Regions from separate parts of the Homo sapiens genome. Here region 2 is linked to region 1. A link means that fine-mapping ties the variant in region 1 to the expression of a gene that starts in the linked region. Tissue or cell type: whole blood. Region 1 holds a variant in brackets; the other region holds the start of a gene. All regions are shown on one strand. Distances are between the middles of the regions.

Region 1 (5,209 bases):
CACACCTGTAGTCCCAACTACTAGGGAGGCTGAGGTGGAAGAATCGCTTGAGCCAAGGAGGCAGAGGTTGTAGTGAGCCGAGATCACGTCACTGCACTCCAGCCTGGGTGAAAAAGTGAGACCCTGTCTCAAAAAAAAAAAAAAAAAATATGGTGATTGTTTTTATATGTAGCCTGCCCAGTGGCATCTGAAACTACATTTCCAAGGCTTTTTGACCATCTTATCCTTCTCTACTCAGTCTTGCTGACCTAACTCTGTAGGAGATTTGTGCCCCAGGCAGATGATAATTCAGGTCCTGACTCTCCAGGTCCTCAAATGCTCATGACAGATAGTTCAGTTGATGGCATAGCCTCCGAGAAACAGAAGGGCACTCTGAATCTACTTTCTGTAAAATATCAGTTCAAAACCATCAGCTCAGGGCTTGTATATGCAGGCTGCTTGTCTGGTATTCTACTAAACACCTATCTTTTCTGCAAAGTTGACCAGCTTTGCTTTGTGGGCAAAAGGTATTCATTTCAAAGAGCTAAGACACAAATTGATGCCATCTAAAGTGAATTCCTTAGAGAAATCCAGTAGTGATAGCAGCTCCCATTCCAGGCATCTAGGGTGATGGTAAGTAGCTCAATCCACAGGAAACACTAAGCATTATTAAAAACTGGTGATCAGAGACTTCTTTCCAGAGTATTATTTCAGTCTGCTGTTGTTCCAAAATTGTCCTGCTACTAAAATCCTCAACTGCCCCTTTCTTTGTCATGACCAATATTTAAACACATCTGTACTGTACAAGATAAAATTGTGCAGACACCTTGCTTAGGAAAAAAGACCCTAGAAGTAGGTGAAGTCAAGACCGACTCCCTGTCTCCCCCTGAGACTGCTGAAAACATCACTAGTGAGTGTGTTTAGGTCTGGGGCAAATGGCTTTGTATCCAGCCAGAATTAAAGCATCAGCTGGACAAAGCTTTCTCTTTTCTCCCTCCTTCACATTCCTAGGATGCTAAACACCTTGACGATCAGAAACTAAATGGTGCTGCCTCTTGGACGGAGATCACTGAGGGTGAATGAGACAACTGTGATTTAAAAGACCGAAAGACGTTTTCCCATGTGCTTTTGTGCCATCTTGAGTGTCAGAGACAGATCCCTGCAAGGCCCTTCCTACCTTGCGCTAAGAAATCAGCAAGGAGTGTCACCTAACTGGATGGAGGACATTTAGTGCTTCTAACTTGCAGAATTTGTCCCATTCGACCCACCCCAGCATCCTCTTGAATATTTGGAAATACTTCTCTCCAACTCTGTGCCCATAGCAACTGGCATTGTTTTGCTTGTAATGTTTCTGCATGTGGCCAGCATTATAGAATGCTCCAGGCCAGAGAATGGGATTGCTCCCATGATGCCAGGGCCTGGTCAGGGAAGTGGTGGGACTTGTTCCCTTTGAGGCAGAGCTCCAGAGGAAGCAGGGCTGCTTCTTGTCATGCCCAAGGCATTCATTCTTTCCTCAGTCCTCAGAGGAAAAATTATATGCTGTGAGCAGGTGCGGTGGCTCATGCCTGTAATCCCAACACTTTGGGAAGCCCAGGATTGCTGGAGCCCAAGAGTTCAAGACCGGTATGGTCAACATAGGGAGACCCTGTCTCTGCAATAAAAGAAAAAAATTAGCCTGGTGTGGTGGCACATGCCTGTGGTCTCAGCTACCTGGGAGGCTAAGGTGAGAGGATTGCTTAAGCCCGGGAGATTGAGGCTGCAGTGAGCTGTGATCACACCACTGCACTCCAGCCTGAGTGACAGAGCAAGACCTTGTCTCAAAAAAAAAAAAAAAAAAAAAAAAAAAAAAAAGATGCAGGGCTTCTTACCTAGGGAACATGGGCTAGGTGAATTTGAACCACTTCCTGTTTCTGGGATTTGTTTTGTTAGTCCTTTAGAGCAGATGCCTTAGATAGCTAGCGCCTTTTGTAAAACACCGAAGACATTGCCACTTGGAATTAGAGATTGGTCAGTATTCAGCATTGACTCACTGACTTAAAATTTGTCTGCTTGTGGTATTTTATTTTGGGGTGAGCACTAGGCAGAGGGATATAGCAGTTCTGTTTCCCAAGGCTTTGTGGTTGACATGGTTTTGTTTTTTGTTTTTTTTGTTTTTTTTCAACTTTTTGTTATAAAAATTTCAAACAGAAGTAGAGAAGATCCTCTAATGGATCCCAGTGTGCCCATCCCTCAACCTCCTCAGTGATCAACTCATGGCCAATCTTGTTT[C/T]CTATTCTTCAACCTGCTGACTTCCCTCTGGATTCTTCTGCAACCAGTCCCAGATATTGTGCCATTTTATCCATGGTTGTACTTCTTTTTTGGATATAAAGATTTTTAAATGCATTTTTTAAATGCTAACAAAAAATAAAAACTTGAAACAAAAAAAAAAGTGTGGCATCTCCAATTGAGCATCGTGTGTCTGGTTTCTCTTTCCGGATATGTTGATGTTCTCCCTGGTGCCTTCTGCCTTTACAGTGCAAGCCAGCAGTAAGCCGCAGCAGGTCTTCCAGTTTAAGTCTCACAGTTGAAAGTGCTTTAGAAAGCTTTGATTTCCTGAACACCTCTGATTTTGACGAGGAGGAGGATGGTGATGAGGTTTGTAATGTTGGCGGAGGTGCTGACTCAGTATTTTCAGACACTGAGACTGAGAAACACAGGTAAGTCTGAAGTTAGTGTCTCCTTATATTTCTCCTGTCACAGCTGATACAGTAGTTCTTTGTTACTGTCAGAGGGGACCTGGTACACATTTCCAGGAAGATAAAACTCTCCACATGAGTGACCAGTTGGCTTACAGTTCCTTTTTATTGTCAAGTGCAATAAAAGGGTCAATATTATTCACCTCTTTTGGGTTGCTTAAGGGAAAATAAATATCTTTATATTTCCTCTTTATAAATAGAGAGGAAAATTTTGTATGAGAGTGTTTTATACAAGTACATGTGTACACATTTTTTTTTAAGACGTAGTCTTGCTCTGTCACCCAGGCTGGAGTGCAGTGGTGCGATCTCAGCTCACCACAACCTCCACCTCCCAGGTTCAAGCGATTCTCCTGCCTCAGCTTCCGGAGTAGCTGGGACTACAGGCACCCGCCACCACACCTGGCTAATTTTTGTATTTTTTTAGTAGAGACGGGGTTTCACCATGTTGGCCAAGCTGGTCTTGAACTCCTGACCTCAGGTGATCCACCCGCCTCAGCCTCCCAAAGTGCTGGGATTGCAGGTGTGAGCCACTATGCCCAGCCCTCACATGTGTCTTATAGGGTTCAGTGTCTACAACTTGACCCCATGTAATTAATTCCAAATTAACTAGGTATACACATTTCTGAAGAACTCTTACTGGATGACAAATTTGGGCCTGGTTCTCCCTGGCTTGCACTTTACTTCCACTGCCTTTGTTTTGTTGTGCTTCCCTTTCCCAACCCTTCATGTTTCCTTCAACCCAGTGAGTCTTTGCCAGAGATTGAGTTCATCAAGGCACGCATCCAAGTCAAGTTTAAGTCCCATGGTGCATATTTCTTGTAGAATGTAAGAGGGGATGACCAATGACTGCCACTGGTACTGCATGTCTCTAGGTGGAGAATGTGACCTTCTCTGGAAGCAACAGATGAAGGTGAAACATTGTCACCTTCACCGTCCGGTGTCCTCATGCAGCCAAATCATGTTTTGAGAACTAGAGCCTGGGGTCCAAATTTATAACTACATATAAAGCAAAATAAGCACAATGGAACATACCCACCTCCATCAATTGCTGTGAAAGAAAACACACTTTCCCAAAATGGGGGTGGATTGCCCGCTCATCTTTACCTTGGCACAATATGACGTAAATGGGTTTTCAAGTTACAGCAAGCTATGATTTCAACCTTCACAAATCTCCCTGAAAGATGCTAGTTTTTGTTTGTTGTTGTCCCTGAAGGGTTTCCTTTTTCAAAATAAAACCAGGAAAAAAAAAAACATGAGAACTTGAATTTACCCCATAAGCAATCTGGGGACATGGCAAAGAAAATTTATTAAATGAATGTAATGTTTAAATTATCCTACATTTGGCCAGGCATGATGGCTCATGCCTATAATCCCAGCACTTTGGGAAGCCAAGGCCAGAGGACTGCTTGAACTCAGTAGTTCAAGACCAGCCTGGGAAACATGGCAAAATGCCATCTCTACTAAAAATACAAAAGTTAGTTGGGTGTGGTGGTGCACACCTGTAGTCCCAGCTATGCGGGAGGCTGAGGTGGGAGGATTGCTTGAACCCAGGATGTCAAGGTGAGCTGAGATTGTACCACAGCACTCCAGCCTGGGCAACAGAGCGAGACCTTCTCTCAAATAAATAAATAAGGCCGGGAGTGGTGGCTCACTCCTGTAATCCCAGCACTTTGGGAAGCTGGAGGGTGAATCACTTGAGGTCAGAGTTCGAGACCAGCCTGATCAACATGGTGAAACCCCGTCTCTACTAAAAATACAAAAATTAGCCAGGCATGGTGGTGTACGCCTGTAGTCCTAGTTACTCAGGAGGCTGAGGTGGGAGAATGGCTTGAACCTGGGAGGTGGAGGTTGCAGTGAGTTGAGATCGAGCCACTGCACTCCAACCTGGGTGGCAGTGCGAGACTCCGTCTCAAAAAAAATAATAAAAATAAATTGTTCTGCCTTAATATTTTTTAGCTTGATAGAATTTGTGAAATACTTCTTATCCAAAAATTTTTCTGCATACTTGTTACCTTAAGCTGTTACAGGATGTAGCAAAGTCAGGCATCAATCTAAACTTTTTTTCTTCTTGCTATAAGAAACATTTTAACAAAAAAATATCACAAGCACAGGTTTTATAAATGTTATACATCATTGATATTAAATATGTCTAATTTGATCAATCTTATTATATGTCATCAGAAGTATTAGGGAAGAGAGAGAGACAGAGAGAGAGAGAGAGTGTGTGTGTGTGTGTGTGTGTATTTTAAATATGTATTGGCTGCTATGTGTGGACTGCCCAGACACAAACTGAGTGTTTTCCCCTTGGAGTCAAATGTGAATCAGAATCAGAATAAAGCATTCAAAGCCTCTAAGCTCTGGTGCTAATCTTTTTAAATTGTGGACACCAGAGAGTGTGAGGCTAGAAGCCCAAATCTTCCCTGTCCCGTCTAGCTGTGTGAACCAGGACACTCAAAATCTCTGCTAATCATGTGAAACAAGACCACTATTGCCAC
Region 2 (5,123 bases), 96 kb before region 1:
AATTCCACCCACTTAAAATGAAACAGGCCTACAGAGGTTATGCTAACTTTTTGAAGTGGAATAGCTAGGGCCCTCAGGTTCACGTGGTAACCAGGTAGTTCTGAGGTGGGAGGTGAGGGAGGTAGTGCAGGTCCCCAAGAGCCACGGGGATGCTGCAGTGAACTGGACTGTGTGCAGTCACTCCCATAAGTTGTCCAGACATGAGGTAACAGAGTGAGCTCTGGAATTAGTCAAATCTGCCACTCACTAGCTGCCTGATCTTAGGAATGTTTTTCAAGCCCTCAGAGCCCCCATTGCTTCATCTGTAAAATGGGATAATAGCACCCACCTCATGAAGTTGTGGAGATTAAAGGACATAGGACAGTAGTTGAGAAATGTAGTGATTATCAAAATGGACACCCATCCTCTTATCCCAACCACACAAAAGAGAGCTTTAGTCCACATCCAAATTTCCTACACCTAGGCCCATTTTAATTAATTTAATTTATGTAACTAAGTGCAACCCTTGTCCAGAAACATCATTCAAGTGGGGATCATGGTAGGGGGTGGTAAAAGGGTCAGAAAGGGGAGATGCAAAGGAGAGCTAGAGAAAAGGATAACTCCAGTTCTCTGCCTGTCAGTGTGTCTCAAGGTGGGCATTATTGGTATTTGGAGCTGGACAGTTCTTCCTGTTGAGCTACTGTTCCATGCATTATGGTAAGGTTGATATCCCTGGGCCCCTGAGTGCTAAGACATTAAATACCAGTAATAACCCCCAGTCATTGTGCCACCCAAAACACCCCAGACATTTCCAAGCTCTCCTCTAAGGATGGTTCCAGCCCTGATTGACAACAATTGGTGATCCCAGCAGGACCCAAGCTGTACACTGTCTTTGGGAACTGCTGCAGCCACCAATGCAGGGATGAACTGACTGTTGCTGCTCAGTTAACCCTCAGTGTCTGATTCCTGAATTCCTCTGGGGTGATCCCTTCTCACTGCTGGATTTCTCCAACCCTGTTGTCCACAGTCTCTTCTGGGAGAAAATGGTGCAATTTCAAGGTTGCAGTTACAGGAGGAGGGGACAGTTTCTCTAGGGTAACACTGGGAGTATCTTCAAAACCATGCAGTAAATAAAGTGCCAAAAATAAACACCTTGGGTCAACAGCTCCTCACTGTCATCTCCATTTGCATTTTCTAAGCTTCTGGCCACCTAAGAGATCTTACAACACAGTGGAGTGCTCTGGGAAACCCCGAAATGAAGTCTCAGTATTACTCAGAGAGATGTGTGTTTGTTTGTGCAGCCAGACAGAATTTGGCACACGTTGGGTAGCTCGATATGGTGATGCCAGCCAATGGTGCTCGCGTAGAAGCTCAGTGTTCACTCATCCCTTTGGGAGGACTGCTTTTTGAGTTACATTTTCTTCTTTCTCCTTTAGTGATACAGTCTGAAGTATCAAACTGAGTAAATATTGTGAAATGCAAGATGTTTGACCAAAACCAGTTATCTATTCATTGACTATAGATTTAATCGAGCCACATAAAGCCTAGATATGGTTCAGTTTGGTTTAAATGCTGTAAAGTTTCCAATCCTTAAATGCAAGAGGTTTGAAAAAAAGAAAAGAAAAGAAAAGAAAAATGCAACTATTACTGAGCAAAATAAAAGCTCTGTCCTCTAAATGCCTGCTTTGGTTTAACATAGTGGCTTGCTTTACTTTCAGATAAATTGTAATTGAAGCAAAACCAAGATATGAGAAATATGAACTCCCTCTTTCAACAAAACCCATTGTGTTCAAATTCATAAGCAAGAAAGTTAAGCACCCACCTTCCTCTTTAAGGAAATATGAAAGTTGTTGCTTTGAAATAGAATTCATTGCATTCAGACTTTGAGTGATATCTGTATTCATATCCAACCGGATCTGCAGCCCTCTTCAAAAAATTCTTTCTCCTCAGTGGTGAGAATTACCCCACCTGGGATTCACTCTTCACAAGGCTCAAGAAGCCTATTCATATGAATGAAACTGCTTTCTTCAGGGCAGATGCGGAAGCTGCCCTCCAGAGGGCTTGGGCAACCCAAGGAAAGGAAATCACCTCGGTCGGCAGTGTGACTGCTGAGACTGCCGGGGCTGCTGCCTGCTGCTTCTCGCGCCTGTCCTCTCCAAGATGCAGTTTTTTGATGCTGAGGAGCTCCTGGTCGATGAAGAGGATGATGTTTTTGGTGAAGGTAAATGCATCTTTCTGGCAGGAGGCTCTCCGGTCTGCTTTGCTTTGTTTTGACACCACTGGACACTTTTGCCCAGCTTGGGCAAGGACTTGAGTATTTTGAAATGATAAAAACAAAGCATCCTGAGTGAGGTAGTGGCTGCAAATATCAACTTAGGCACTGAAGGAATACACAAGGCAAGGGGTGGAACAAGGGGTTGAGTCATTCCCGCAAATACATTTTTTAAAGTCATGACTAAAATAAAGGTTTAGTTTAGGCTGGAAAATAGTACTAAATTTTTTGCCTTGTCTCTCTTCTGTGCTATCTCTTGTCTAACACCTTAAGGAAAGCCTGTCACAGTGGTTTGAGCACAGCAGGGCTGCTAGGGAAGAAGTTAAATAAATGGACCAGGAGTGGTTTTTCATGGTACCATGTTGCTTTGATTTGCACTTCTCTCTTTCTGTCTCTCTCTCTCTCTGTCTCTCTCTCTCTGTCTATCTTTCTCTCGGTCCTTCTCTTTTTTTTTTTTTTTTTTTTTGTTGTTGTTTTTTGAGACAGAGTCTTGCTTTGTTGCTCAGGCTGGAGTGCAGTGGTGCAATCTCAGCTCACTGCAACCTCCGTCTCCCGGGTTCAAGTCATTCTCCTGCCTCAGCCTCCCAAGTAGCTGGGACTACAGGCGCCCACCACCATGCCCAGCTAATTTTTGTATTTTTAGTAGAGATGGGATTTTGCCATGTTGGCCAGGCTGGTCTTGAAATCCTGACTTCAGGTGATCCACCCTCCTTGGCCCCCCAAAGTGCTGGGATTACAGGCGTGAGCTACCATGCCCGGCCTGGGTCCTTCTCTCTTACTCTTCCTCACACATACTTGGCACTCCAACCCTCCATTCCCTTTTCCAATTTTCTTTTTTCCCAAGTCGGGATACTGGAGCCCTGGTAGCTTCCAATCCCCATTGGCACTGCTCAGTTTTCTGTTCTCATCTTGCAGCTTTTCCATGACTTGACCTATCCACTGGAATTTAACTGTAAAGGTTGCGATTTTAAAGGGATGATCTAGTCATTGGATGGATGTTTTGTTCAAATGCTGCCTATGAGATTGGGCTATAGGCAAAAGCTTTTTTAGAATTTGGAGCCACCTAAATAAAGGAAATTTGGACTCAAGAATCTCGTGAATTTGATTATTTTCCGCAAGAAACTACGTCTAGCAATTTTTTAAAAAACTCTATTCAGTAATTTTTTAAAAGGAACAGTAGTAAGGTTTTTGTGTATGTGTAATTACCCAAGCAATACAAGTTCGCTGAAGAAAAATTAGAGTGTCGCAAAGAACCCCTTGTAATCTAGTCATGTAGAATGTAATCATGGTTAATATTTTGATGTTGTCTTTCTGCTATGTTGTTCTAGCTACAGAAATATTTAAAATCATTAGTTGGGTTTTTATCACAACTTAAATCAATTTGAAGAATATCTATTGAGCTTCGCTGCTGTTTACCAAGTTATCATTCTGTTGTGTTACTTTGATGGCAGGCGTTTAGGCCACCAACACCTTGAAGTTTGATCTTAGGCCCCATTCTTCAGCTTTCACTTCTTAAAGATGTTTCCTCTTTAAGCAAACACCTTAAAGAGAAAATTTATACTTAGATACTAACTCTTTTGAGGACCTGAAAAATGCTCACAACTATGAAGATAAGCTTAGAACGGAAAAATTGGCAATCATTCACCCACACCTCCCTCCAGGAATGGCATTCCAAAACGCCCAGCCCACATTTCTTTGCCTATAGGAATTTTGCTCTTTTACATCTGGCTATGATACTTAAGAGCGCCCTCTATAGGCTGATGCACTGCACTCTGGATTATGCGTGGCCCCATCCTGAAGGGAAGCGTTAAGACCAAGCAGGGCTGGATGAACCTGTGTGTTCTCTCTCCTGAGCATTCATCATTTCCAAGGTGATTATTGTAACCTCACTAACCATGTTGTAGTGGAATGGCTGAGGTCCCCAGGTTCCAGGTAGCTAGGTAACCAGCTAGCTCTGAGGTGGGAAGTGAGGGAGGTAGTGCAGGTTGATAAGTTGGGAGTCAAACGAGATTCAGACTCAGATTCTGGTTCTGCTTCGTGGTACCCATACAAGCTAACTTTGGTCTCCTCAATGGTGAAGTGGGACAGTAATACCTATCGGTTGTACAGATTATCTTCATAGTAGATGCATAATGTTTGCGTTGCACTTCAATGTGGTATGCTTTATCTTTTCCAAACTGATTATCTCATTTAACTTAATCCCTAAAGATTAAAGAGAAAATCCTTGCAAGGCCAACATCCAGTGTATTTTTATTCAGTTTTCAGAGCCGTGGCTCATGTTTGGCAATTTATGTGAAAGCATGTCCAGCTGCTGCCTCATTTTAAGCAAGCTCTGTGTGGGGTAACAGTCAAAAGCTTCAGCTCTGGAATTGCACGGTCTAGGCTTTGCCAACCAATTCACTTATGACCTTAAGCAGGTTACCTAATCTCTCTGTGCCTCAGTTTACTCACTTATAAAATGGAGTCCAAACCTCATATGGCTGTGTGTGGCTTAAGTGTTATGATAGGGAAAGCTTTTAGAATAGTGGTCAGTACTTAATACATATGAATCCCTATTGTCTATTTACAAAAATGGGTTTATAGAATAGTGACCATTTTTTCACGTCTGGTTAACCTCAGATTCAAAATAGGACTTATTTACAGAACTTCAGTTTATAAATAACTTTTCAGAGGTTTAACGTGGCAGATATAGCACTGAACAAGTTGTTAGGAGTCTGAGTTGTAGCCTTGCCCCTGCTGTGGTATAGCTGGAGGATCTTGGGCAAGTCATTTATCTTCTTTGAGCCTCATTCTTCTTCTGAAACAAGGGGACTGATTACACATTCTCTGAGCATTCTACTACCCAGTCTCCAGTCTTTACTTCAAAATGATG

Evidence for each region. PIP is the estimated chance that this variant, and not a neighbour inherited with it, causes the effect.
Region 2: it holds the start of RIPOR2, and the variant in region 1 is fine-mapped to the expression of RIPOR2 in whole blood (TOPMed, PIP above 0.99).

Annotation. Positions count from the first base shown.
Region 1 is chr6:24,836,557-24,841,765 of GRCh38, reverse strand. RIPOR2 (RHO family interacting cell polarization regulator 2) reads left to right here. Exons shown (of 22, transcript NM_001286445.3): 14 at 2,494-2,675. Among named protein-coding and RNA genes, the nearest start is that of ARMH2, 40 kb to the right of the region's middle. The variant C/T (reference allele first, on the strand shown) is at 2,248.
Region 2 is chr6:24,932,915-24,938,037 of GRCh38, reverse strand. It overlaps RIPOR2 (RHO family interacting cell polarization regulator 2), which reads left to right and starts at 2,078. Exons shown (of 22, transcript NM_001286445.3): 1 at 2,078-2,200. The coding sequence starts at 2,140. It overlaps LOC105374981 (a long non-coding RNA gene), which reads right to left and starts at 4,063. Exons shown (of 3, transcript XR_007059514.1): 1 at 3,974-4,063; 2 at 3,668-3,792. RefSeq lists an enhancer at 1,196-1,365.